4 linked regions of the Homo sapiens genome follow. The protein of the gene in region 3 interacts with the protein of the main gene of each other region in a pairwise test. Each region holds a gene or a part of one and is shown on either strand. Other genes may lie near its edges.

Region 1 (7,023 bases), on a different chromosome or scaffold from region 3:
TAACGATCGTTCTTAAAATTATAAATGGATCACTGATTTAAACACAAGAAATTTAAAAAAACAATGATGGACATGATACAACTGATCCGACTTAATGGATAAGTTATATGATAGCTACTAGCAAAATGCTAGTAAGTGACTCCCAAATGCAATCAACCTCACTGACAAGAACATAAGAGAAAAACAGTATGCTAAAAACATTCAGTCAATTAAAGAGAGAAAACAATGATACCGTTTTTGTCACTGGGGTTTAGCTCTTTATGGTAATTAGATGCATGTGTTTTGCATGGAGATATATGCAAAACAGTTCTAGGGTCTCTGTCAAATGTAATTTCTAGCAAAACAGACTAAGGATATAAAAACGAAGCTCTGGTTCTTTCGAGGTAAATTTACTAAATATTATTAGAGACCAAAATGTAAACAAAATATAAACACAACAATGAAAATGAACTTATTGCGTCACATAAAAGAAGTCACTCCATGTGTGCAGCAGGTTGGCAGGGCAAATTTACTACACCCTGTGCTACTGACCTGGCAAGAAATGTGTTAAATGAGCCTGCTGCTTAAGAAAAAAACATAGTGTCATCATTTGATAATACAGTCCAGTGAATAATCTAGAAACACCTAGCATTCATTTTTTCACTACAATTCAATCTGGATGCCATAGATTGCTCAAGTTTGCTTATTTTTGCATGATATGTTCATATAGGTAAACAGAAAGATGTTATACATTTGTAAAATATGTGATACACACACAACATAAGGAGTATGTTCAGATCAAGATTTTTTGTCATGTAAATGACTTTTAAGATGCATTCTGTATATATAAATATTATATGTAATATGCTATAAAGCATATTAATGAATCAATCAGATGCAGCCCTAGCTAACTTAGGAACCAGACCACCAATGACACAGCACATGCCCAAGCAATACACTCCTCCCTACCCTGCTTCACCTGAAGAGAAAGTAGCTTGGCTGGGCACAGTGATTCACGCCTGTAATCCCAGCACTTTGGGAGGCCGAAGCGGGTGGATCACCTGAGGCCAGGAGTTCGAGACCGGCCTGGCCAGCATGGTGAAACTCAGTCTCTACTAAAAAAAAATACAAAAAAATTAGCTGGGCGTGGTGGTGCATGCTTGTAATCCCAGCTACTTGGGAAGTTGAGGCGGGAGGATCCCTTGAATCCAGGAGGTGGAGGTTGCAGTGAGCCGAGGTAGCGCCACTGCTACCCACCAGGAGTGACTTAAATTACCCCCACCTCCACGTACATTACTGGCCAAAGTAGCTGATATCCCTGAGGGAATCTAAGCTGACAGGGAAAAGACATTATAATTTGATCATTATAATAAATAAAGACAATAAATTCAACAACCTCTACCATATGAAACAAAATTAACAAATACCAAAAGATAAAACTATACATTAAATACTTAAAGATACCACAAAGAGAAAAGAAAGGATATTGGTAATATGAAGAGGAACCAACCAGAACTACCAGCTATAAAAATCTTAACAGCTGAAACAAAGAACTCATGGCTATCCATCTAATTGCCAAAAGATAAATGACAAAGACAGAAAAAAGGGAAATAATATAAATAAATGGAAGGCAGAATTAGAAGTGTCAACATCTGTAAACAGGAATCCCAGAAAGAAAGAGGAAAAAAAATTAACAGACGATAGAAAAAGTGATAATCACAAAATTTCCAATTAAAGAAAGATAAAAGATCTCAGATTCAAGTGTCGAAAAAGAGATTAACACATGAAATACTAAGGAACTTTTACACAGCTTGAAGGGTAAAGTTAAATGACAGGCTGCAAGATTTACAACACATACAAAGAAAAAGGCTAGCCTCACCCTCACCCTCGCCCTCGCCCTCTTTGCATGGTCTCCCTCTGATGCCGAGCCGAGGCTGGACTGTACTGCCGCCATCTCGACTCACTGCAACCTCCCTGACTGATTCTCCTGCCTCAGCCTGCCGAGTGCCTGGGATTGCAGGCACGCGCCACCACGCCTGACTGGTTTTCGTATTTTTTTGGTGGAGACAGGGTTTCGCTGTGTTGGCCGGGCTGGTCTCCAGCTCCTGACCGCGAGTGATCTGCCAGCCTCGGCCTCCCGAGGTGCCGGGATTGCAGACGGAGTCTCGCTCACTCAGTGCTCAATGGTGCCCAGGCTGGAGTGCAGTGGCGTGATCTCGGCTCGCTACAACCTCCACCTCCCAGCCGCCTGCCTTGGCCTCCCAAAGTGCCGAGATTGCAGCCTCTGCCCGGCCGCCACCCCATCTGGGAAGTGAGGAGCGTCTCTGCCTGGCCGCCCATCGTCTGGGATGTGAGGAGCCCCTCTGCCCGGCCGCCCACTCTGGGAAGTGAGGAGCGCCTCTTCCAGGCCGTCATCCCGTCTAGGAAGTGAGGAGCGTCTCTGCCCGGCCGCCCATCCTCTGAGATGTGGGGAGCGCCTCTGCCCAGCCACCCCGTCTGAGATGTGAAGAGCACCTCTGCCCCGCCGCCACCCCGTCTGGGAGGTGAGGAGCGTCTCTGACCAGCCACCCCGTCTGAGAGGTGAGGAGCCCCTCCGCCCGGCAGCCGCCCCATCTGAGAAGTGAGGAGCCCCTCCGCCTGGCAGCCGCCCCGTCCGGCAGGTGGGGGGCAGCCCCCGCCCGGCCAGCCGCCCCGTCCGGGAGGTGGGGGGGTGCCTCTGCCCGGCCGCCCCGTCTGGGAAGTGAGGAGCCCCTCTGCCCGGCCGCCACCCCGTCTGGGAGGTGTACCCAACAGCTCGTTGAGAACGGGCCATGATGACGATGGAGGTTTTGTCGAATAGAGAAGGGGGAAATGTGGGGAAAGGAAGGAGAGATCAGATTGTTGCTGTGTCTGTGTGGAAAGAGGTGGACATGGGAGACTCCATTTTGTTCTGTACTAGGAAAAATTCTTCTGCCTTGGGATGCTGTTAATCTATAACCTTACCCCCAACCCCGTGCTCTCTGAAACATGTGCTGTGTCCACTCAGGGTTAAATGGATTAAGGGCGGTGCAAGATGTGCTTTGTTAAACACATGCTTGAAGGCAGCATGCTCGTTAAGAGTCATCACCACTCCCTAATCTCAAGTACCCAGGGACACAAACACTGCGGAAGGCGGCAGGGCCCTCTGCCTAGGAAAACCAGAGACCTTTGTTCACATGTTTACCTGCTGACCTTCCCTCCACTATTGTCCTATGACCCTGCCAAATCCCCCTCTCCGAGAAACACCCAAGAATGATCAATACTAAAAAAATTAAAAAAAGAAAGAAATAGGCTGAACTCACTTATGAACAGAAATTCAAAAATCCTAAATAAAATAATAGCAAATTGAAAAAAAAAAAAAACAAAAAGGCTAGCATGTAAACTACATAGAGCCATCTGCTGCAAAACAACTAGATCATGACACAAAAATAGTTTTGTTGCATAGCTGACATCATAGGAGTGAGAGAAATTCCAGAAAAATAAAAAGAGAAAAGTAGCCCTCCAACTACTTGGGAGGCTGAGATGGAAGAATTGCTTGAACCCAGGAGGTCAAGGCTGCAGTGAGCTGTGATCACACCACCGCACTCTGGCCTGGGCAACAGAGAGAAAGCCTGTCTCAAAAAAATGACCAACCCACTATTAAAATAGGTAAAACTCAAGAAAATTTTCCTAACTCACTATCTCCAACTCTACCATTCTCTTTTAAAACACTAGACAAACACTGTTCTCATCCAGAACACCAACGTTCACTGATGTTTCCTAAGTGCTTTGAATTTTTACCCCTTCTCCCCACATTTAGGCCTAGACCATATGTTAAGCTAGAGTGAGTATCCTGCTACATACCACAGTTGTAGAGTTAGCAATATAACTTTTTTCTTTTTTTTGTTTTTGTCTATCATTAATTTACTAGTTAGAAGAGCAATTTAAGTTTGATACGCAAATTTCCCCCTCTCCCAGGACTTGGTCCCAAGGCCCATTTTCTTTTCCTTTTTTTCTTTCTTGAGACGGGGTATCATCACTCTGTTGCCCAGGCTGGAGTGCAGTGGCACACTCACAGCTGACTGCAGCCTCAACCTCCCTGGCTTAAGCAATACTCTCACCTCAGCTTCCCTAGTAGCTGGAACTACAGGCATGCACCACAACACCTAGCTAATTTTTGTAGATATAGGGTTTTGCCACGTTGCCCACACTGGTCTTGAACTCCTGGGCTCAAGCGATCCGCCCACCTTGGCCTCCCAAAGTGCTGGGATTACAGGCATGAACCACTGCACCCCGCCCCAAGGCACATTTTCTTCTCTATCTGTAACCTCCCTGTAGGTGATCTCAAATCCAATGGCTTTATTTTTCTTTTTCAAATAAACTTTTACTATCACAAAAGCAGTACATGTACATTGTAAAAAATTAAGAAAACAGCTAAGCAAAAACAAGAAAAATGCCATATTCTAACTACCCAGAGATTACCACTGTTAATATGCCTTTAGTGTGGATTTCTCCAGATATTCCTGTGCATACATACATTTTTTTCCAAAACGAGAGCACACTGTTCTTAATGTTTTCTATCTTGCTTCTGTCCATTAACACTCTCCATCTTTCCATGTCAATGACTTTTCATCTCATCTAATACTCAGTACATATTCAACTTTGTACAACTGTCACCAAAATCAAATGAGAAAATATACCTACAAACTTCTGTACCTTTGCATAAATGGTGCCTTAGGCCCAGACTACCCCTTCCTCACTTTAGTCTGCCTCCAAACTCACAACTAATCTTTGAAATTCTACACAGCTATCTGTTCCTCTTAGAAGCTTCCTCTGAACCTCCTTGGCCCCTCCAGGTTAATGAGGTGCTTTGGTACAAAGTAATGAGTTACCATCCCCCTGTACCTCTACTGTTCTACTTTGTGTGCTAATTTTATTTATATACCTATAATTTCCACCAAACTGTGTCCCTAGTTTTTTGTGTGGTTTGTTTGCTTTTTAGACTGGGTCTCGCACTTTTGCCGAGGCTGGAGTGCAGGGGCATGATCACATCTCACTGCAGCCTCAACGTCCTGGGTTCAGGCGATCCTCCCACCTCAGCCTCTAGAGGAGCTGTGACCACAGATGCATGCCACCATACCCAGCTAATTATTACTATTATTATTTTTGAGATGGAGTCTCACTCTGTTGCCCAGGCTGGAGTGCAGTGGCACAATCTCGGCTCACTACAACCTTCGCCTCCCGGGCTCAAGCAATTCTCCCAACTCAGCCTCCCGAGTAGCTGGGATTACAAGCGCATGCCACCACGTCTGGCTAATTTATTTGTATTTTAGTAGAGACGGGGTTTCACCATGTTGCCCAGGGTGGTTTCAAACTCCTGAGCTCAGGCAATCTGCCCACCTCAGCCTCCCAAAGTGCTGGGATTACAGGTGCGAGCCGCCGGGCCCAGCCTAATTATTTTTTAATTATTTGTAGAGACGGGGGTCTCCCTATGTTGCCCAGGCTAGTCTTGAACTCCTGGACTGAAGTGATCCTCCCACCTCAGCCTCCCAAAGTGCTGGAATTACAGGTTTGAGCCACCATGCCCAGTCCTGTGTCCTTGTTGAAAGCAGATACTGGATGTTATTTCACCCAAAACAGTATGTGGCATCTAGCTGGCATTCCATAAATATTTATCTTACAGAAGAATGCTGGCACATGCACAAAACAGAGATCTATAAATATTTATTACAGTGAATTGACTTTATAAGCTATATAAAATAATGTAGGGAAATAAAGAGTTGAGAGTAAGGATAGCTTTTTTCCTATGCCTATTAGTTATGAAATCTTGGGATTTCATAACTAATTAAGTCTTATGCCCAGACTCTGTGGGTCTCTAATCTCACTGGCAAAATTAGAAGGATGAACTAGACATATAAGACGTTATGATTTTGAAAGCTTTGGAATACAGTCTTTAACAACCATTCTATTATGTTTTCAAAACCACATTTAGACTGGCAATACCAAGTGTTGGCAAGGATACGGAACAACTGGAACTCTTGTACGTTGCTGGTGGGAATTTCATATGGTACAGCCACCTTGGAGGACTGAACACTTGACATCTGAATATTTTATTATATGTAAATTATATCTCAATTTTTTAAAAGTTCAAGTCATATAAGATTTTCAAAACTTAGAAATTTTTACACTTACCTTCTTTTCTTTTGAGCAAGGTTGAGTTCCATAAACTTATACTTCTGGTACTGTTCATCCAGCTTCTTTAATACTGTATCTGCAGTCTCATTCCCAGGCTGTTTCATGAAGGAATCTACATCTTCCTTTAATATCAAAAATAATACTTTACAAATTTTAGAATTCATGCCACTCAGATTTTTTGACTGCTTTGTTTTTAAAACATAGAAGAAAAAAAAGCTTTGTTTTTCTCCAAAGGTTTGTTTTTAACTAAAAGTACAGGTTAAGCACCCTTATCTAAAATGCTTGGGACCAGAATTGTTTTGGATTTTAGATTTTTTTTTTTTTTTTAGATTTTGGAATATTTACATTATACCAGTTGAGCATCCTCAATCCAAAAATCCAAAGTCCAAAATGCTCCAATGAGCATTTCCTTTGAGCACTATATTGGTGTTCAAAAAGTTTTGGATTTTAGAGCATTCTGGATTTCAGATTTTCAGATTTAGGATGCTCAACCTGTAGTTATAAAAAGTTAGAGACAATTTCAGATGGTACATATATATTATATAGCTAATTTATTCTTTCACTTTCCTCTTCATTTTTTATTCAAAAATAGGAAAAGAAGAATGACCTTGCCCACCACTTTATGCATTTCCCATGCATCCCTAGTAGTAAATATGAAACTAACAATCAAATACATTGCCTATTCATGCATCCTATTCACAAAATGATTTTACAGGTTGCATGTCAAGATTATCAATTTTATTACTTATTTTTAATTCAACAAGTTTTACCATAGAAATCATACTAAATATGGTTACTGGGTTCCCAAGGCAATCCACAAATGCTTCCTTCAGTATCAAATAACTGAAACAA
Region 2 (7,023 bases), on a different chromosome or scaffold from region 3:
CATTCATGTTCATGGACTGGAAGAATCAATATCATGAAAATGTCCAAACTGCCCAAAGCAATCTACAGATTCAATGCTATTGCTATTAAATTACCAACATCATTTTTCATAGAATTAGAACAAACTCTTCTAAAATTCTTATAGAACCAAAAAAGAGCCCAAATAGCCAAAGCAACGCTAAGAAAAAAGAACAAAGCTAGAGCCATCACACTGCCCACCTTCAAACTATACTACCAGGCTACACTAACTAAAACAGCATAACACTGGTACAAAAATAAACACATAGACCAATGGAACAGAATACAGAACCCAGAAATTAAAGCTGCACACATACAGCCAATTGACCTTTGACAACATTGACAAAAATAAGCAATGAGGAAAGGACTCCCTGTTCAATAAATGGTGCTGGGAAAAATAGCTAACCATATGTAAACGAATGAAACTGGACCACTACCTCTAACCACAGATAAAAATTAACTCAAGATGGATTAAGGACTTAAATGTAAGACCTCAAACTATAAAAGTCCTAGAACAAAATCTAGGAAATAGTCTTCTGGATATCGGCCTAGGCAAAGAATTTGACTGAGTCCTCAAAAGCAATTGCAACAAAACCGAAAATTGACAATTGGGACATAATTAAAATAAAGAGCTTCTCCACAGCAAAAAAAACTATCAACAGAGTAAACAGACAACCTACAGAATGGGAGAAAATATTCGCAAACTATGGATCCAACAAAAGTCTAATATCCAGAATCTATAGGGAAGTTAAGTTAAACAAATCAACAAGAAAAAACACACAACCTCATTAAAAAGCAGGCAAAGGGCAAGAACAGACACTTCTTAAAAGAAAACATATAAGCAGCCAACGAAACATGAAAAAATGCCCAACATCACTAGTCATCAGGGAAACGCAAATCAAAACCACAATGAGGTACTATCTCACACCAGTCAAAATGGCTATTACTAGAAAGTCAAAAAACATCATGTTGGCAAAACCACTGAAAAAAGGGAACTCGTATACACTGTTGGTGGGAATGTAAATTAATTCAGCACCTATGGAAAGCAGTCTGGAGATTTCTCAAAGAACTAAAAACAGACCTAGCATTCAACCCAGCAATCCCATTACTTGGTAAATAGCCAAAGGAAAATAAAATTGTTCTACCAAAAAGACACCTGCCCTTATAAGTTTATCACAGCACTGCTCACAATAGCAAAGATAAGTGGTGGCTCATGCCTGAAATCCCAGCACTTTGGGAGGCTGAGGTGAAAGGATCACTTGAGTTCAGGAGTTCAAGACTATCCTGGGCAAGAAAGTGAGACCCCTATCGCTACCAAAAAAAAAAAAATTTTTTTTAATTAGCCAGGCATGATGTCACATGCCTGTAATCCCAAGTACTTGGGAGGCCGAGGCAGAAGGATTGCTTGAGCCCAGGATTTTCAGACTGCAGTGAGATAAGATAGCACCACTGCATGCCAGTGTGAATGGAACAGCCAGACCCTGTCTCAAAAACAAAACTAAACAAAACAAAAATAGCAAAGACATAGAATCAACCCAGGTGTCCATCAACAGTGGATTGGATAAAGAAAATGTGGTACATACAAGCCATGGAATACTTCGCAGCCAGAAAGAAAGACCACCACCATGTCCTTTGCAGCAACATGGATGCAGCTGGAGGCTGCCTCCACTTATCTTAAGTGAATTAATCCAGAAGTAGAAAACCAAATATTGCATGTTCTCATTTATAAGTGGGAGCTAAACCCTTGGTATACGCGGACATAAAGATGGGAACAAGAGACACTGGAGACTCCAAAAGGAGAGAGGGAGGGAGAGGAACAAGGACTGAAAAATCTCCTATTGGGTACTATATCTACTATCTGAGTGACAGATTCAACAGAAGCCCAAACCTTGGCATCACGCAATATACTCTTGTAACAAACCTGCACATGTACCCCCTGAATCTAAAATTTAAATTTAAATTTTTTTAAAAAATGGGCAACTAGGAAAAAAATAACCCCTATCTCTGGGTCTAAGGTACTAACTGCTGAAAATGAGTGACCTTCGATCATGAAAGTGGCAGTGAAAGTGTAGTTCCCCAGAGAGAGGCAAGCTATACACAAGGCAGGGGGAGGCCAGGAAGAAAAGAGGCTGATTTATAGTATGAGAAAGGTCTTGGGGCTCCAGAGGACTCAAGGGTGGGCGTTAGTGAAGTGGGGGAGGTGAAAAGAGGGGAGAAGAGTGCCTTGGAGATGTGGTGAGACGGAACAAGCCATGAGCATGTTGGAAGGCAGCCAAAGATCCCAGGGGGAAGGCCCCTCTCAGGCTGGTGCATGCTGAGATCCCGAGTCAGGATAGAGGGTAAACACGCGGCTTTGCTCAGTGGCCAAATGGAAGACTGCCAAGAAAGTCAGTGAATGGCTCTGAAGGCAATTCTCCCCATCTCCCACTGCAATCAACAAGAGCTCACCAGGACCCAAAGGCACAGAGCTCCAGGGACTGGAACCGGAGAGGCTAGAAGTGACCCAGCCCTCACACACAGCTTTGCCTTGGAAGTTGAAGGGGGACTTTAGCTGGCCCATAAATATGGACCTTGTACAGACCACAGAAGCAAAAGAGGCAATGGATTAGTATCCAGAACACACAAAGACCTACAGCAGATCACTAAGAAAAATGCAGCCCAACAGGAAAGTGGGCACAAGACACAGACAGGTGACTCAAAGGAAAAACTGGAATGGTACAAACATGTGAAGAGCCTCAACCTCACTGGCAATCTAAATCTGAAGGAAGGGAGAGAAGGACAAAGACAGACAGATGATAGGTGGATGATAAAAATACTCTTTAAGGCCAGGTCCAGTGGCTCACGCTGTAATCCCAACATTCTGGGAGGCTGAGGCAGGTGGATCACTTGAGCTTAGGAGTTTGAGACAAGCCTGGGCAACAAGGTGAGACCCTGTCTCTACAAAAAATACCAAAAAAAAAAAAAAAATTAGCTGCGCATGGTGGCGTGCAGAGTAGCTGGGACCCCAGTTACTTGGGAGGCTGGGATGGGAGGATCACTTGAGCCCCAGAGGTCGCGGCTGCAGTGAGCCGTGATTGCACCACTGCACTCCAGCCTGGGTAACACAGCAAGACCCTGTCTCTCCCCCTCTTCCCCCGGCACCTCTCTCTCCATATACACATATATTTTTTCTCTTTAGAGGAATATAATAAATAGCAAAGTGCTGACAAGGACGTGGGAAACACGAACACTGACATGGTGCAGGTAGAAATGTACACTATGGTGACCAATTTGGCAGTATCTTATCAAATTGAAAATGTCCATGTACTACTTCTCAAATATTTCCTCTGGGAAAACTCCTGGAGAACTCTCAGACAGGTTAGCAAAGAGTTTATCAAGGATGCTCACTACGGCATTATATTTGTCAAGTAAAACCCGAAAGTAACTTAAATGCCCATCAGTCAGGGAAGGATAATCCAAATATTACATCTCCTTTGATGCAAGGTACTTAAAAGGAATGAACTAGATCCACAAGCAATTTGTAAAATTATACCCCCAAACAAAACCATCTATGCCAGCCTGGGCAACATGGAGAGACCCCGTCTCTACAAAAAAATTTTTAAAATTTAACAATTAGCCAGGCATGGTGGCATGCACTGACGGTCCCAGCTGCTCAGAAGGCTGAGCTGGGAGGATAACTTAAGCCTAAGAGGTCGAGGCTGCAGTGAGCCATGTTCATACCACTGTGCTCCAGCCTGGGTTACAAAGCAAGACTCTGTCTCAAAAAAAAAATTTTTTTTGCATATATGTTACACTGTATTATATGTATTATGTATGTATAGATATTTGTTAGCACAAAATATTAAAATGGACTAGAAAGCTTGGTTCTGGATAAGATGGCCTGAACACACCCTCCAGTCTCGCTTCCACTGAATGCAGCTATAAATTCCAAAGAGAATACATGAAGCAGCTATTTGAGGACTCTGAAAAGTAAACAGTAGCAGGCAGATAGGGGAAGAAGATCAAAATTTTAAGAACCACTAAACCAGCAGAGAGTTTACCACTTTTTCCTTTAGTGTCCCTGGCCTGGACTCGAGGGAGCTCCAAAACCCAAAAGTAGCCCTGAGCCACACAGAGAGCACCAGGAGAAGGTCTCTAGTGAGGCTCAAGGAGTGGGAAAGGGGTCTCCTGCCAGCAACCAAGCACGGTAGCAGTGGGGACATCCCCCAGGTAACTCAAACTCTGGGGGAAAGGAATTTTTTCCTTACACCTGAAAGCTCTAAGAGCTTCTCAACTCCTGCCGCAGGGCGGGATGAGGGCAGAGTTGCAGGCACTTGGACACAGCAGGGTATATGAAGCCCCAGCATTCCAGGTGGGGGACTGAAAAAGGCAGTCCCAGGTAACTAAAGTGTACCCAGAGAGTTAACAGCTCAGAAAAGTGACCCCAAAAAGTTGTTTATAAATTCCTGGCCTCATCCCAAGTTGTGCCTGTGTGGATCTGATCATAAACAGTATCTGAAAGACTCTGAACCTAAGATCCAGACCACCCAGGTCTCAGACTGGCCACTGGGCGGCACTCACGAGGGGCAGTTCCAATAGCACTGTAAAGACTCTGAAAACAGGACGACACACTGAAACCAAACAGAGAAAAGGCTGGCTGGAATCTGACCCAAAGGGGTTGACTGCCTGTGAAAATATAAACACCAGCATTTCCCAAGGATTTAAACAAGACCAGTGATCACGTAAATGTCCAGGATAAATCCAAAATTACTTGGCATATGAAGAAACAGGAAAATCTCAACTCTCATGGGAAAAAACAATCAAGAGACACCGAGGCCAGGATGACACAGGTGTTGGAAGCACCTGGCACAGACTTTACAGAAGCTCTTACTTTTTAAAAGTGCTAGGCCGGGCGCAGGGGCTCACGCCTGTAATCCCAGCACTTTGGGAGGCCAAGGCGGGTGGATCACGAGGTCAGGAGATTGAGACCATCCTGGCTAACACGGTGAAACCCCGTCTCTACTAAAAATACAAAAAATTAGCTGGGCGTGGTGGCGGGCGCCTGTAGTCCCAGCTACTTGGAAGGCTGAGGCAGGAGAATGGTGTGAACCCGGGAGGCGGAGCTTGCAGTGAGCCGAGATCACGCCACTGCACTCCAGCCCGGGTGACAGAGCAAGACTCCGTCTCAAAAAAAAAAAAAAAAAAAAAAGTGCTCCACAGCAGGGGATGGTGGCACATGCCTGTAGTCCCAGCTACTCAGGAGGCTGAGGTGGAAGGATTATTTGAACGCCTAGGAGTTTGAGGCCAGCCTAGGCAAGGTCTGTAGAGACTCGGTCTCTTTAAAAAAATAATTAAAAAATAAAGATGCTCTAAGAAGTCAAAGGCAACACTCAGAACGAACAGTGTGAGTGGCAGAATCCTACACTGCCCCTCTCCCCAAGATTTCCTGCCCTAATCTCTGGGACTATAAATTATCACACGCTGATTATGTCATTGCCTGGAAAAGAGGATTCTGTAGATGTAATTAAGGTTACTAACCAGCTGACTCAAGAGTTAATCAAAAGGAGTTTATCCAGGTATGCCTCATCTAAACACACAAATCTATAAGAAGCAGAGTTTTTGCCTTCTTGAAGTAAACTTTTTAACAAAAGAATAAAAGCAGAGAGAGTTTCATCTTGCTGGTAGCAGAAGAGGAAGTCTCAGAGACTGGAAACGTGGGAAGGATTCAATGAGCGACTGTGGCTTGAAGATGGGGTCCCTGTGAGAAGCAATGCAAGCTGCCTCAGCAGCTGACCCACAGCTGACCAGCCAGCTGGGAAACAGGGAACTCGCTCCTAGAAACCAAGACACTGGACTCTACCAGCCACTTCAAAGTGCCCAGAAGCAGATTCCTCCCCTAGATTCTCTGAAAAGATCCCACCCTGGAAAACACCTCACTTTTGACCTATGCAGAGAACCTCTCAAACCCACTCAGACTTCTGACTTGCCAAACTATGAAATAATAAATGGTGTTGTTTTAGCCACCAAGTTGGTGATAATTTGTTACATAAAAATAGAAAACAAATACAGATTTTAGTAGCTGGAAGACAGATACCTATTTAAATTCATTTTGACATACCCATGAAGTACCATGTGATAATACTGGGACTCACTGATTGCTCTAAGGTGAGAACATTCCTTCCTTAAATTTATTTTCTAAAATGCTATTTAAGAGACAGTGCACGCCCTTAACTTCTCCAGGAATTTATTTCTTCTAGTTTTTAAAACTACCACCAAAATTAACTGTGTTTACTTGAAGAGAGGCCCAATCAGCACAGTCTAATTAATATGTAAATAGAATTAACTTTTTAACATTATCCACCATACACTTTGAGTTTGGTACACTGTCCTGGCTTCAAGTCTCCCAGAAGCTGCAATATGGTGTCCAAGAGCACCCGGCTTGAATTAACCAAGAATTCACGACCACATGCTATAGCAGCAACATCTGCAACAGAAAATGAAACAAAACATCAAGATCATTATGACTCAGAACCTAGACAATTTTGTGCAGAACAGAGTATTTTCTCCTAAAAGACCTAATGAAAACACAGCTGAAAATGAGGCATTTATAAATGAAATTGCTAGGCATGGTTGTTCACACCTGTAATCCCAACATTTTGAGAGACTGAGGTGGGAGGACTGCTTGAGGCCACAAGTTCAAGACCAGCCTGGGCAACACAGCAAGACCCTATCTCTACAAAAAATTTAAAAATTAGCCGGGCACGGTGTGTGCACCTGTAGTCCTAGCTATTCAGGAGGTAGAGGCAGAAGGATTGCTTGAGCCTAGGAGGTAGAGGCTGCAGTGAGCCATGATCATGACACTGCACTCCAGCCTGGGTGACAGAGCAAAGCCCTGTCTCAAAAAAAAAAAAAAAAAATTATCAACAAAAATGACAGCTCAGAAAGAATCACTGACAACCACAAGAGTTACTGAAATATCAAGTAATGTGCAGTGTGATTAGCAAGCGCCGAAAGAGTGAAACAGAGC
Region 3 (7,173 bases):
TGTTGGCCAGGCTGGTCTTGAACTCCTGACTTCAGGTGATCCGCCTGCCTCGGCCTCCCAAAGTGCAGGGATTACAGGCGTGAGCCACCGTGTCCAGCAGACATCATCTTTCATAGTTGAGGAAAGGAAGCCTCACCTGAAGACACAGGGATCTCAAAAGCTTGAGCTCCTGACTCCTAAAAAAAGCACTGTCGGCTGGGCACAGGGGCTCAGGCCTGTAATCCCAGCTACTTGGGAGGCTGAGGTGGGAGAATCACTTGAACCTGTGAGGTGGAGGTTGCGGTGAGCTGAGATTGTGCCATTGCACTCCAGCCTGGGTGACAGAGAAAGACCCTGTCTCAAAAGAAAAACAAACCCCCACAAAGCAGGACTGTCGCTCCCGGGCCACCAAGGCTATTATTTAGATCTGCTGCCTTTACACCAACCAGCAGCATTTTTTTTTGTTTTTAAACAGACAGGGTCGGCCAGGCACAGTGGCTCACACCTGTAATCCCAGCACTTTGGCGGATCACGAGGTCAGGAGATCGAGACCATCCTGGCTAAAATGGTGAAACCCCATCTCTACTAAAAATACAAAAAAAATTAACCGGGTGTGCTGGCGGGCGCCTGTAGTCCCAGCTACTCAGGAGGCTGAGGCAGGAGAATGCTGTGAACCCGGGAGGTGGAGCTTGCAGGGAGCTGAGATCGCACCATTGCACTCCAGCCTGGTGACAGAGCTAGACTCCGCCTCAAAAAAAAAAAAAAAGAAAAAAAGAAAAAAAAAGAAAAACTTAGCCCCTCTCTGAACTGGAAAGTGGCATCAAACAGCATAAAGTGGAGAGACCGTGGGGAGCCGTGTTGAAACTACACGCAATGTGTCATGCAATCTTCCGCGCGTATCAAATGTCAGAAACTAAAATAGGGGAAACATTGAAAACCAGGCGGCATTGGTGAATAAATCCCACACAAACAGCTGAGCTTCCTCCCAAAGCGTGACGCACAGATGGCTCCCCTGACCCGAGGCCTCCTCCTCCGTGGACGCCGCCTGCCCAGCTCACGGAAGGCCTTGCCTTCTCCCACCCGAAACCGTCAGCCCAGGCCTCGCTCTCGCCTGCTGTGGCCACAGGTCAGCACCCTTCCTGCAGCCCAGAGTCTGGTATACAGCAGGCGCCTAATAAATACTGGCTGGGCAAACACCACTCATCCCAGCTGCTCAGACGTGGGGGTCGGGCTCATTGCGGAATGCAGACCGGCTCCACCGTGCCTTCTGGCCCTGAAGGGCTGGGCAGGTCCACGCCCTGCACCCTGGAGCTCCCCGGGGAGGGCGGGTGTAGGAATGTTTGCCCAGTGAGTGGACAGACGTTTACACAGCGGGATTTATAACCCACATCAGACGTCAACTCCGGGAGAAAGGGAGCTGTCCGCCCAGCCTCGAGCAGGTGCCGGGTCTCCCAGTGGGGTCGGGGTTGGGTGGGGATGAAGGCACGCATCCTCCTCTGCTCATTCCTCCCCAGTGATTCACTGAAGCCAGCGGGTGGGGCCTGGGGTCCAGCTCTTGGGTTCAAGGCCACTGGGCCCCCTCCCCTGCTGCCTGTGCCTCAGTGCCCACCCCCGCCCCCCGCTTTTTTTTTTGAGATAGAGTCTCCCTCTGTCGCCCAGGCTGGAGTGCAGTGGCGCGATCTCCATTCACTGCAACCTCTGCCTCCCGGATTCACACCATTCTCCTGCCTCAGCCTCCCAAGTAGCTGGGACTACAGGCGCCCGCCACCACGCCCGGCTAAGTTTTGTATTTTTAGTAGAGATGGGGTTTCACTGTGTCGGCCAAAAAAACCCCTGGATCCACGGCGGCTCTCATGGCCGGCATTCTTGGGCAGCGGCGCTGCCCTCGGGGGAAGAGCCCCAGGACGGAAGATGGCCCCTGCAAGGCCCGGCGGTGGCTAAGGACCTCGGCGTCCTGAGACTCTTCCTGCAACACCTTGGAACCGTTTTCGACTCCGGTTTTCGAGAGAGGGAGCTGGGACCCAGAGAGGAGAACCTGCTCATCTGAGGTCACACAGCGATGACAGAGCAAGTGTCTGAAGCCAGTTTTCAGACTTTGCTCCAAATCACCCCCTCCTACAGGAAGCCCCCTGGGTTGCTCCTCCCAGCCTCACCCTGAACTCTGTTGATACCAGAATGAAACTGGGTTTATGGACCCTGGTGCCACACCTCCTTCCTCATCAGCCAGTTGGCTCTATGTGAGGGGCAAAGGTTCCCTTGTGGGGCCGAGACTCAGACAAGGAGGCCATGCAGAAGGGAGGGCCCCGTTCCTTTTTCCCATCCCTCAGGGTTGCAGTCACCCTTGAGTCATCTCAGCTCCTTGGGCTCCTGGGCGGAGCTCCACCGGCAGACGCTGGGCCGAGTCCCTGCTGGCTGCCCGGGATCCCAGGCTACCACCTCACCCCCACCCGAGGACCCAGGCCAAGTCCCCAGCCCCGGCCTGAGACTCCTTCCGCCTGTACTCAGCCACCCCTCCTCCGTGTCCCCAAACCAGCCCCCAGCCCCACGGGGGTGTTTACTGCCCAGAGCCTCCCAGTCAGGGGCCTGGTGGGACGGATAAGCATCTCTCCAGAAGCCTCTGGAATTCCCAGAACCATGGAGGGGCCCCTCTGGCCTCTGACCATGGGGGTGCCAACCCGGCCCCTCCCTTGGAGGGCTCTGGGATTTGGGGTTCAAAAGCCCCAGCAGAGTTCAGGGACAAGGGCCTCTCTGCTCTCCCAGTGGGTGCCCTTGAGGCCCCAGAGTACCTAGCGGGGGCAGAGGGAAAGGTGCCTCAGGGAGGCTCCGAGGGTGACGGGGTGGGGCAGGGGGCCTCCCTGGATCCCAAGTGCCGCCAGGCAAGCAGACCCCGCCCACAGACACATGACGCTCCCACGCCAAATGTGGATCCAACCGCCCCACACAGGATCCCCGCCCGGCCCGGCCCGGGGCGCCCCCAGCCTCACCTGCCGGCTCCCGGCTCCACAGTCTGCAGCCTCCACTCTGACTCCTCGATGGGCACAGAGGCCTCCCAGCTCCGCCCTGCCCGCCAGGTTGCCAGGGAACAGAGGCCCCACCCAGGGGAGGCAGGTGTGCCCCCTCCCCCCAGCCCCACCTGGGATCAGGAAACAAAGTCCAGAGGAGGAGGAGGGAGAAAGAGGATACCAGGCTGGGCAAGGGCGGGCACCGTGCCCGCTGCCGGCTGCCCCTCCACCCCCAGGGCCTCCAGGTGGCCCCGAGGAGCCAGAACTCAGCCGAAACCTCCCTTGGCTGCCTGGCCCTCCCACCGCCTCTCAGCACCGCTCAGAGAGGGTCAGCAGGTGTCCAGGGCCACACAGCAGCTCAGCGTGCACAGTGGCCTGTGTCTCCTGGGGGGCCGGAGGGGCTGAGTCCCAATCCCGTCCGTGCCTTCTGGCCCAGCCCACCCCTTGGGGCAACTCCCCTAGATGGCCCCCTTCTTGCATAAACCAGGTTTGGCAGACTCGGGGGGGTTTGGTGTGGCCTGGGTTCTGATCCCACCTGACCTCTCTTAGCCCTGTTTTCTCCTCCGGGACGTGGGGGAACATCACGCCCGGGCTCCCTCAGGGCTGCTGGGAGGAATTCCCTAGGCCCCATCCACATAAAAACCCATACGAGGGGGCCGGACTTGGTGGCTCACACCTGTAATCCCAGCACTTTGGGAGGCCGAGGCGGGCGGATCACTTGAGGCCAGGAGTTCGAGACCAGCCTGGCCAACATGGCGAAACCCCGTCTCTACTAAAAATACAAAATTTAGCGGGGTATGGTGGCACGCTATTATAATCCCAGCTACTTGGGAGGCTGAGGCAGAAGAATCACTTGAACCCAGGAGTTGGAGGTTGCAGTGAGCCGAGATCACACCACTGCACTCCAGCCTGGGCGACAAGAGCAAAACTCCAACTCAAAAAAAAAAAAAAAAAAAAAAAAAAAAGAACCGCACGAGGCCGTCAAAAGACCCAGGCCACCCCGAGAGATGGGGACGCAGAGGCCCTCAGGCGCCCATGGTCCTCCTGGATTCTTAGTCAAGGTGCAGAGGCCTTGCTGGGACTGTGGGGAGCCCAGCATCTGTGGGGAAGTCGGGCCACTGGGCCTAGCGCCGTCTATGAGGGCAGGGAACACAGCTGAGGGGGCAGGGACTTCAGTTCCCCAGGCTGGGGCTCTGTCCTGACCTACGCCAGAGGGGCTGCTTGTGGAGCCCCTCTGAACCTCAGTCTCTTCTTCGAGTAAAAAGGCCCCCAGCTACGAATCCAGCAGGGCTGCTCAGGAGGGGGGTGCTTTTTTTGTGTTTTTTTTTTGAGACGGAGTCTCGCTCTTGTCACCCAGGCTGGAGTGCAGTGGCACGATCTCGGCTCACGGCAACCTCCCCTGTTCAAGCAATTCTCCTGCCTCAGCTTCCCTAGTAGCTGGGATTACTGGCATGAGCCACCACGCCCAGCTATTTTTGTATTTTTAGTAGAGACAGGGTTTTGCCACGTTAGCCAGGCTGGTCTCGAACTCCTGACCTCAGGTGATGCCCCCGCCTCAGCCTCCCAAAGTGCTGGGATTACAGGCGCGAGCCACGGCGCCTGGCCAAGATGGGGGTGTTTAAGGACAAATCTGGATAAAGGGCCCCCAAAGGACAGCGTGGCACCTAACGCTGCTGGGTGTGTGAAAGCTCAGGGTGCGCGGCCTCACGGCGCCTCCCACCGCCGCCTCCCGCCACCCCCTTCACGTCCTTTTCTCCCTGGCTTGTAGATAGGGAAACGGAGGTACGGAAAGCTTAAAATCGCGCCTCAGGAATGGCGGGGGTTTAGGCTGGAATTGGAACCTGAGTTCCCTCAGCAGTGCTCTCCACCACACTCACCACCTCATCGGGGAAAACTGAGGCCCCAGCAGGGTGGAGGCTGGATCGCCCATGAGCTGGGGGCACTGTGGAGACGTCCCACGCCCAGGCTGAGGCTGGCCTCCCACTCAGGGCTCCGAAGGCCTATTTTATTTTATTTGAGACAGAGTCTCGCTCTGTCGCCCAGGTTGGAGTGCAGTGGCACGATCTCAGCTCACTGCAGCCTCCGCCTCCCAGGTTCAAGCGATTCTCCTGCCTCAGCCTCCTGAATAGCTAGGATTACAGGCGTGAGCCACCACGCCCGGCTAAGTTTTTGTATTTTTAGTAGAGACAGGGTTTCAGTATGTTGGCCAGGATGGTATCGATCTCTTGACCTTGTGATCCGCCCACCTCGGCCTCCCAAAGTACTAGGATTGCAGGTGTGAAACACCGTGCCCGGCCACGAAGGCTTATTTTACAGATGGGAAAACTGAGGCCCAGAGGAGGCAGCGACTTCTCCAAGACTACAGCGTGAGAGAGTGGGGCTGGCGGGGCAGCACCTTCCCGTGAGCATGACACTGGTCTCTACAGACACCTCCTCCCCAGGCCTCCTGTGTATTTCCCAGGGGCCGGCTTCTCTACAGAGCTTGTGGGTGTCCAGGGGACCCTCTGTCATCACCCAGGGGCTGTGAGCCCAGCAAAGGGAGGAACAAAGGACAGGACGGGGCGGCCGCAGAACCCGAGGGCCCCCCGGGAAGCCAGTCCTGCCCCCCCACAGCAGCCCCTTACAGCCAGGCCTTACCTGCACAGTGGGGATTCCAGCGCCTCCCACCACCCCAAGGCGCTCAGGGTGAGCGGGTGCAGGCAGGTGAAGCCAGCACACCGCAACCCTGCTCAGCCTCCCTTTAATGGCTCAAAGGCCGGCAGGCCCCACCCCCTGGCCTGGCCACGCCTTCCTCGCCAGGTTGAAAGGCAAGAACTCCAGGAACTGGGGCTGTTCACGCTGTTTATTTGCTTCTCTGGGAAAATCAAGAACATCGGGGGCCTCGTCACACACCAGAAGCAGAGGGGGTTATAGCAAGGGCACTTCAGCGAAGGCTCGCGGCTCGAGGGACTCAGGCAGACTCCAGGGAGGAGGAGGGGGTTCCACGGCTGACGCCCAGGTCACCCCCGAGAGGGCCTCTCCTCCCAGCCACCCAGGGGCAGAGCGGAGGCAGGGACCCAGGCTCCCATCCGAGGTGGCCCCTGTACCTGCCCTGCCGAGGCTGCAGGTGGTGACTGGACCAGGAGGTGGCCTGAGCACTGGGCACCAGGCTGGAGGTCCCTAGGGCAGGGACCAAGTTGGGGCCTGGTTGTCCAAAGCCAACGTGTGAGACGGTGTCTGTGAGAATGTGCACGAATGTGCCTCTGGGGACGAGTGTAGCTGCCCCCAGGAGGGAAGCCCCTTGCCACTTCCAATGAGAGGGGGCTGGGGGCAGGCTCACATTGGTCTGGGTGGCAAATGAGGGTCTCCTGCTCCAACCCAAGAGGCTTCCTGTCCCAGGCTGTGTCCCTCCCTCCACTGCCCGGACGTGCTCCAAGCCCAGTAGAGCTGGCAGGTGGGGCCTGATCTCGGGGTATGGTTGGGAAGACCCAGGACCCTGGTCCAAGCAGGATGGAGAAGAGGCCGGGGGCGGCCCCTGGGGTCCCCAAATTAGCACCAGGAGGAAGGAGGGCCCAGTGGGGGCGGGAGCTCGGGACAAGGAGTGGCTCACTCGGTCCCTGCCCTGTGCAGGGGGCAGGTCAATGACCCCTGGTTCGCCCCGTCTAGAAGATAGCCCAGGGGTTACCGGCCCCTCCCGGGTGGGGGCATGTCCCCGGGGTTCCCCCTCCCCCAGACTCCATTGTCCACTGGTTGGGCCCACACAGGGCATAGGGGCACAGCAGAGGGGCCTGTCCTCCACCCAAGACCTTTAGCCCCCAAAGAGGCACGGCCTCACCCCAACTGCCTGAGATTGGGGGGCCAGCGCCTTGGCCAGGGAACCCCATAGAGCCTCACTTCCAGGGCCTGAGCAGGCCTCAGTACCCACCCCCGGCTCCCGGGGCCCTCTCTGGCGGGGTGTCCCCTCAGAGAAAGGCACAGGTAGGAGGCCCAGAGGGTGGCAGGCTGGCCTGGGCCGCGTGGAGGCTGCGGGTCCCACCCGCCAGGACCCCGGTGGGCGCGAGCCGCGTCTGTGAAGCTGCCGTGACATGGGGGGTCCTTGTCTCGGGAAAAGCGGGTCTGTCCTGTCTCTCTCCTACCAGGCACAAGTGCACGGCTCTGGTTCGGGGGGAGTGTTGGGGCGTGGTGACGGGTGGGGGCCCCTGTCCCTCTTTCC
Region 4 (7,697 bases), on a different chromosome or scaffold from region 3:
AAGCAGTTTAATTTTCCATTTACAATCATCAACTTACCCCTTCTCATTTTTTCTCTTAAATCTATGGAATCAGTTTGGATTCCCATCAGATTTTGTTTCATTCTTTGAATGCTTCCTTTTATTCTAAATTTGGTAATATGGTAAGAGTGTGAGAGGGTGAACTGGAATTTCTCCTCAATGCATTTCATGGCCATCTGAATTAACTGATTTTTTTTCACTTGGTCCTTTTCTGCTGCATGAAGAACATCAGGATTGTAGGCAACATCAATGACTGTGTAAGCATCTGTGTGTGTAATTGAAAGGGTATGAAATGAAGAAAAATTGTTGCACTAATGATACTGTCAGGCAATATATTAAACCATATTCCTGATAAAGCTAGAGAATATTCCTGTATTTTTCAGAGGTAATCACAGTAGTGCTACAGCAATTATGACATTTCTTGGCACTTTTGCATGGATTAAAACAGCTCACCTTATTACAAAAGTTAAACAGTATTAAATTTGCATAAAGATACACTAATTGTAATTATATTATCAACAAATAAAGAGTTTTACTTGAAATGCTCTCAACCAAGTAAGATCTTGTCCATTCCTAATAAAATTTTTACAATGTGCTTTCTCTCAATTATTTGTACCTGATATCTCAGTTGTATCTTCTGGTTTGCCAACAGTTAGAGGTACTGGATGAGTGGTTGATTGGGGAGCTGGGATCCTTGTCCACTGACACAGGTTGATAAAAAGTATTTTTTCTTTTGGTTTCTGGAAAGCAAATAATTTTGCACATCTCAAAACCTAGTTTAAAACCATTTAAGGCCAGGCATGGTGGCTCCCGCCTGTAATCCGAGCACTTTGGGGGTCCAAGGCGGCCGGATCACCTGAGGTCAGGAATTTGAGACCAGCCTGGCCAACATGGTGAAACTCCGTTTCTACTAAAAATACAAAAATTAGCCAGGTGTGGTGGTGGATACCTGTAATCCCAGCTACTCGGGAGGCTGAGGCAGGAGAATCGCTTGAACCCAGGAGGCGGAGGTTGCAGTGAGCCAAGATTGTGCCATTGCACTCCTGCCCGGGTGACGAGAGTGAAACTCCATCTCAAAAAAAACAAAAACAAAAACATTTAAAAAATAATATCCTAAAAGCCACTCACCACAGGAATGAAAGAATTTTAGGCTCCAAGTAAGTCATTTCATGTATTAAAACTGCGTTTGATTATACTGTTGTTATTTGATTTCCCCAAGGCTGCTGGCTTTTAATTAGGAATCCAGACTGGGGTGGTGGCTCACGTATGTTACCCTAGTACTTTGAGAGGCTGAGGTAGGAGGGTTGCTTGAGGCCTAGGAGTTCGAGATTAGCCTGTGAAACATAGGGAGACCCTGTCTCTACAAAAATCATTTAAAAATTAGCCGGGTGTGGTGATGCCCACCTGTGATCCCAGCTACTTGGGAGGCTGAGGTGGGAGGATCGCTTGGGCTGCAATGAGCTGTGATTGTGAGCTGTGATTGTGCCACTGCACTCCAGCTTGAGCGACAGAGCCAGCAAGACCCTATCTCAAAAAAAAAAAAAAAAAAAAAAAAAAAAAGTCTGCCAGGCGCAGTGGCTCATGCCTGTAATCCCAGCACTTTGGGAGGCTGAGTCAGGTGGATCACCTGAAGTCAGGAGTTCAAGACCAGCCTGGCCAACATGGTGAAACCCCGCCTCTACTAATAATACAAAAATTAGCCGGGCATGGTAGTACACACCTGTAATCCCAGCTACTTGGGAGGCTGAGGCAGGAGAATCGCTTAAACCCGGGAGGCAGAGGTTGCAGCGAGCCAAGACCACACCATTGCACTCCAGCCTGGTGACAAAGTAAGACTCTGTCTCAAAAAACAAAACAAAACAAAACAAAACAAAAAAAAAACAAAAAAAATTAGCAATACCTAAGTGTAAAGTATTCTCTGGTTATTCTGGGATCATTTCATTCAAGACCTCCCCATCCCTGGCACCAACTCGACATACCAGAATCCTGGTCTGTAGACAAAGCTGTGGTTCTGGGGCAGCACAGAGCTGTTTCCCTTCTTTCAGCTGCTGCTGAATAAACTTCTCATAGCCCTCAGGGTCACTCTGAGCTAGATCATCTAGGAGGTTCCAAAACTGAGTAACTTGGGTAAGCAGACCTTTTGAGGATGTCTCCATGACTTATGAGTGGTGAATAATTTTCTTAAGCCTGTGGAAAAACACGACTTCAGGAAGAAAACTGTCTGTGTAATTATTGATTCATTTCTGCTTTGGGGAGGTGGAATGGGTCAGGAATTGTTTTGGTGAAGTTAGGACAGCATTTGTGTCTAAAAGGTTGTGGATCAGCACCACTTTATGTTTTCCTTATTCTTTAATTATCTAGTACCTCTTCCTAAATTCTCACATTGTCCTCTCAGATAAGGCCTTACTTCTATTTGGACCCTGACAAGTCAGAGTAATCATTTTAAGTCTGGGTTTCCTGATCTTCTTGTTCCAACACCTGACTGGTGGCTCCCCAGTTCTGAAATTGCCAGAGGTGTGGTGTGGGGTGAGGGCCACATAAGACTTCCTTAATCCTCAGTATAGTTTAGTATTTCAAAGCATGGACTTGTGAGCCAGAATGCCTAGATTCCGGTCTTAGTTCTATCTCTCACTAGCTCTGTGACCTTGAGCAATTAATGTTCTGTTCAAAATGAAGACGATAATACCTCTACCATAGGATTATTGCGAGATTAAGTAAGCTAATAGAGAGGCTGGGACACTTCTCTACGTCTTCAGATAAATCTCCTTAGCCTCTTCTCCCATTGGAGAGGTGTCCCACAGCATCTTTAGAATGAGGAAAAGAGGTTTAGATTCTTCAATTACTGTGTAAGGGTTATGCTAAACGGGAAACTTAACTAACGGATAATCATTCCATAGGTCTGCAAACCCACCTCTTCTCTCAGTTCTAACGGGTAATCATTCTATAGGTTGGCAAACCCACCTCTTCTCTCAGTTCCTTGACAAACCGCGACGCCTGTTACCAGGGTAACCAGCCTGGGTACAACATCTAATTGGGTCCGGGGAACTTCAGGGAGAAAAGTCTCTTCATATCTAGTTCCGGAATGTCCCCCTTCTGGTGCCAGGCTTGCTTTTCAGTTGGGCCTGACCCACTTCTCTTCCAGGAAAGCGCCCGCCTTCCTTCTGCACCCGTCAACCTCTGGAGTGTCCTGAAAACCCTCCCTTGTGGGAGTCTCTGGGCTGCCTGTTGGTGGGACGATTTCTCAGGAGCACGACTTCCGGCCTGAAAAGGAAGTCTCCTCCTTTTTCTCCCAAACCACTTCTTCCCCCCTACCCCCCGCCACGCGAGGCTGCGGCGCACGGTATGGGTGTGTTTGTGTGTATTTGTGTGGGGAGGGCGTTTGGAGGGAAGGTTACCGGGAGCTCCGAGGCCGCTGGGGAACAGGGATCCCGGTGACAAAGATGGGGATATTTCCTCTGTCTTCCACTTGGAAACCTCAACCCCCGCTTCAGGCTCCCTAGATACTTTCTGGGGCCCAACCGAAGGCCGTAGCCATCCAAAGCGTTCCCAGCCTTTCTGGGGAGTGAAACTTACCCCCGGGGTTCGTCCTAGAGGAGCGTGAGCGGGGAATGCCCAGGTCAACCGGGCTGTCCGAATTCCGCCCCGGCTCAGCCTCCGGCCTCAGTCCGGGAGAGAGATCTGCCTGTCGGTCTGGGCTGGGGGAAACGCGGCAGTGGCCTGGGCCACAGGTGAGGGCAGAGTAACCAGTGGGAAGGCTGCGTTTTCACGAAGGACTCGGGTGAAGCTGCAGAGCTGCCTTTGAGCCCTGACTCCTTGGCTTCCTGGGTCGGAGGAGATCTTGTAATGGAGTGGTTCTTCGTCTCACTAGCAAGATGCCTGATTTCCTCAGGATCAAGGGGTGAGTGAGCGTTGGGGTGGTTGCACAAAGCTCCTGCTAGCTACACACGAAAATATTCTTGTCATCTAGTTTTTGGAAGCTTCCGTAGCAAGTAGGAAATAAAATGCCCCCAAATGGAGAAATTTAGGACATCTTTGCATTTGATGTTTTGAGTAATCAGTTTCTGTTACTGTTGACACCCGTGGTTCCTGACACTCTCAAATCTACGTATTTGCTTCAGTGCAAACTATATTGGGATTGGAGGTTTGATTTTTAATTTAGACAGTGACATACATCATTTGCCTGGGACTATGTGGCTTGGGACGTTACAGCTTTAAGGGAACTTCATCTACAAAATAGGGATGGAGATACTTGCCTCATATAAAAAGTAGTTATGAGGATTAAATAAAATGGTGCTCATGAAAGCACTTAATTTTATGTAGTCTTGTGCATTTTCAAAGAACTTTAATGTACATTATCTCCTTTCATCTCACATTAGTGTGTTTAGGCATTTCCCTCTTTTAATGGTAAAGGGAAAACTATTCTTTAGAATCTCTGACTTCTAGTTCAGTGATCTTTCCTGTACCTCATATGCTTCTTTATAAAACTTCAAGAAAAGATAAAGTAATAACAGAAATTATTACTAAACGTTATTTGTTGATTCATTTCAGATTGAAGAATGTCCCGGATTCCACTGGGGAAGGTCCTCCTGAGGAATGTCATCCGGCACACAGATGCTCACAATAAGGTGGGAGGTACAACCTAGTTACTCCTCAACGCTTACTGAAGGCAAGCAGTGTGCCAAGCATTATTTTGGAACAACTGGGAGATACAAAGAATATTCTTGTCATCTAGTTTTTGGAAGCTTCCGTACACAGTAGGAAATAAAATGATGAATAAAATAGATAATTATAATACAGTTTGATAAGTACTGTATAACAGAGATATTTGCAAAGTGCTTTGGAGCACTAAGGAGGAAATAATAAAATCTACACTGGGGAATTAGAAAAGATTTTACAGAATTAGTGGTATTTCAGCTGCTGATCTTTGAACTGGTTCTTGAATAGGTATACGTTTACCAGGTATGAAATATCATTCTGGATAGACAGCATCATGCATTAATATGGCAACGAGAAAGAGCATTAATCACTTGGGGCATGGCAAGAAATTTATCCAGAAAGCAGGGAAGGTAGGGGATAGTGGCAGAAGATAAGGCCTCAGTGGTAATTAGAGTTGGATTGTGATGTTTGGAGCTGAGACTTCTTCCTCTAGGCAATAAAGAAGCCATCAAATGTTTTTAAACAGGGTGTGGCATGATCATAGTTATATTTTAGAAAGATGGTTTGTCAGCTGGGTAGGGAATGAATCAGATGGGGAGATACAGAAGGGAGAGTAATTAGGAGGCAATTGCAGTATTACAGGTGAGAGATGATGAGGGTTCGCATGAAATTAGTGACAGCAGGGATGAAGAAGAGGAATTTAGGAGATAGAATCCAAAGAAGTTGGTGGCTAATTAGATTATAATGATAAGAATGGAATCTAATTCAGTTGACCCTTGAACAATGCAGGGGCTAGGGGCATCAACCCCCTGCATAGTCGAAAATCCATGTATAACTTTTTACTCCCTCAAAATGTAAGTGCCAATAGCCTACTACTGACTGAAAGCCATAGCGATACCATAAACAGTGGATTAACACATATTTTTTATGTTACATGTATTATATACTGTATTCTTATAGTAAAGTAGCTAGAGAAAACAACATTTCATTAAGAAAATCACATTGAGTAGGCTGAGGAGGAAGAAGAGGGACTTGTTTTGCTATCTTACAGGTGGCAGAGGTGGAAGAAAATCTGAGGATAAGTGGACCTGCACAGTTGAGATTCCTGTTGTTCAAGGTCAACTGTGTAACCACCTATGTGACTGGGTAGATGATGACAATTCTGTTAATTGAGATAAAGAACAAAAAATGGGACAATTATGATAGGAAAGGTAATTAGTTTGGTTTTCAACATGTTGATGGTGAGGTGCTTATAGGATGTCCAAGCAGTTGAAAATTCAGACTTGGAGTAGAGGAGAAAAGTTGGGGCTGGACATAAAGGTTTCGGGATTATTGATGTATAGGTTGATGATAAGAGGTCATGAGAGTAGATGAGGTCACCTAGGAGAGCACATATAATGAAAAGAGGGCCAAGGCCCCTGGTTTAGTTTTCTTCAGTAAACTGTACTACTTTTGGTTTGATCATATTATTATTATCATATCACCTGATTTTTAAAATTATGGGCGAGGGTAAAACTGTTACCCGAGCTGCCTATGCAATTATGTTAACCTGCCCCTAGTTATATAGTAAGCTTAGATTTAAAATGGTAGCTAGAAAAAGATAAATCTAGCACAGATCTAATGAAATTATGCAGGAAGACTTAGAAATAAAATGTGTTCTTTGGGTAATCACATTCTGCTTTTCAAGAAATTCCCTAGCAGCCATACTGATTATTTTATTTTATTTTATTTTTGACAAAAATTATAATATTACCAGAAGAGATTTAGCTTAGGGAGTTTAAAGACCTGTCCTTACTAGTTTTTTGACTTTGTTAAAATCTCTGAGCTTTTGTTTCTTTACAGTAAAATGTAATAATGGTAGCTGCTATATTTTCCTCATGAGATTGCTTAAGGTTCAATTGAGATGATATAATTAAAATCATATTGCATTTTGGAAATGTGGCATTATCATTTGCTAATCGCAGCATAATTGCAAGATTGATAAGGTGATGTTTGTCTGTGCAGCGGTTTAAAAATTCTATTGGGGAAGATTTCCACATATTTGAGATTTACTGGATTGGACTGTTCAGCCACTTTCTAGAGAAACCAATTTGTTTTCCAGGTTCCTGATCATAGCCCAGTCTGTAGCCCAATAATTAGTCAGATTGTATTTTCAGTTAGTTGCTTTTTTTTTTTTTTCTTTTTTTGTTGATACAGAGTCTCACTCCATCGCCCAGGCTGGAGTGCAGTGGTGCAATCTCGGCTCACTGCAACCTCTGCCTCCAGGGTTCAAGCGATTCTCCTGCCTCAGCCTCCTGAGTAGCTGGGATTACAGGTGCATGCTACCACGCCCGGCTAATTTTTGTATTTTTATTAGAGACGGGGTTTCACCATGTTGGTCAGGCTGGTGTCAAACTCTTGACCTCATGATCTGCCTGCTTTGGCCTCCCAAAGTGCTGGGATTACAGGTGTGAGCCACTGTGCCCGGCCAGTTAGTTACTTTTCTGTAATGTAAAGTTATTTTTAGTAACTTATTTTTATTTCCTTTTTAAAAATTCTAGATTCAGGAGGAATCAGATATGTGGAAAATAAGAGAACTGGAAAAACAGATGGAAGATGCTTACCGGGGGACCAAAAGGAAAATGCTACCCAGCAGTTCAAGGTGAAGTTGCAGCTCTGAGAACTAAAATAATTCTCATCTTTTTCAGAATCATCAACTTTTGTTTAAAAATACTTTGGTATATTAAGGATAAATTCAGTTCTGTGAGTCCTTAAGCCTTCCTTCTTTCGTAAATCTAGACCCAGGCATAAAGATAATGGCTGTGACGCATATGGCCCTGCTCTTTGTACTTATTTACAATGGAGAGTTAAAAAATTCTACCTGAACAATTATGAATGTGTAGGGTTCTGTGGATTCTAACCTTACCTGATAGCTTTTAACTGAAGATTTTATACTGGAATCTTGTGGTCACTAAGCTGATCAGTCATTCTATTCTCTATTAATCTTTCATTCTTTCAGGCTTTTCTTTTTGTAGCTGGAACTG

What was found.
Region 1: the proteins of MISP (region 3) and VBP1 interact in binary tests that used the Homo sapiens proteins (3 or more experiments, as listed by UniProt).
Region 2: the proteins of MISP (region 3) and HSF2BP interact in binary tests that used the Homo sapiens proteins (3 or more experiments, as listed by UniProt).
Region 4: the proteins of MISP (region 3) and PIH1D2 interact in binary tests that used the Homo sapiens proteins (3 or more experiments, as listed by UniProt).

The regions. Positions count from the first base shown.
Region 1 is NC_000023.11:155,219,453-155,226,475, reverse strand, and holds part of VBP1 (prefoldin subunit 3), read right to left. Parts: intron 6,294-7,023; coding exon 6,169-6,293; intron 1-6,168. UniProt on the Homo sapiens protein: Binds specifically to cytosolic chaperonin (c-CPN) and transfers target proteins to it. Binds to nascent polypeptide chain and promotes folding in an environment in which there are many competing pathways for nonnative proteins.
Region 2 is NC_000021.9:43,607,468-43,614,490, forward strand, and holds part of HSF2BP (heat shock factor 2-binding protein), read right to left. Parts: intron 6,481-7,023; coding exon 6,363-6,480; intron 2,523-6,362; exon of another isoform or gene 2,420-2,522; intron 1-2,419. UniProt on the Homo sapiens protein: Meiotic recombination factor component of recombination bridges involved in meiotic double-strand break repair.
Region 3 is NC_000019.10:746,962-754,134, reverse strand, and holds the start of MISP (mitotic interactor and substrate of PLK1), read right to left. Parts: upstream 3,024-7,173; 5' UTR 2,964-3,023; intron 1-2,963. UniProt on the Homo sapiens protein: Plays a role in mitotic spindle orientation and mitotic progression.
Region 4 is NC_000011.10:112,071,001-112,078,697, forward strand, and holds the start of PIH1D2 (PIH1 domain-containing protein 2), read right to left. Parts: upstream 3,018-7,697; 5' UTR 2,980-3,017; exon of another isoform or gene 2,930-2,979; intron 2,206-2,929; 5' UTR 2,175-2,205; coding exon 1,998-2,174; intron 759-1,997; coding exon 635-758; intron 284-634; coding exon 38-283; intron 1-37. Other genes in the region: uncharacterized protein NKAPD1, read left to right, coding at 4,575-4,643, 7,215-7,315.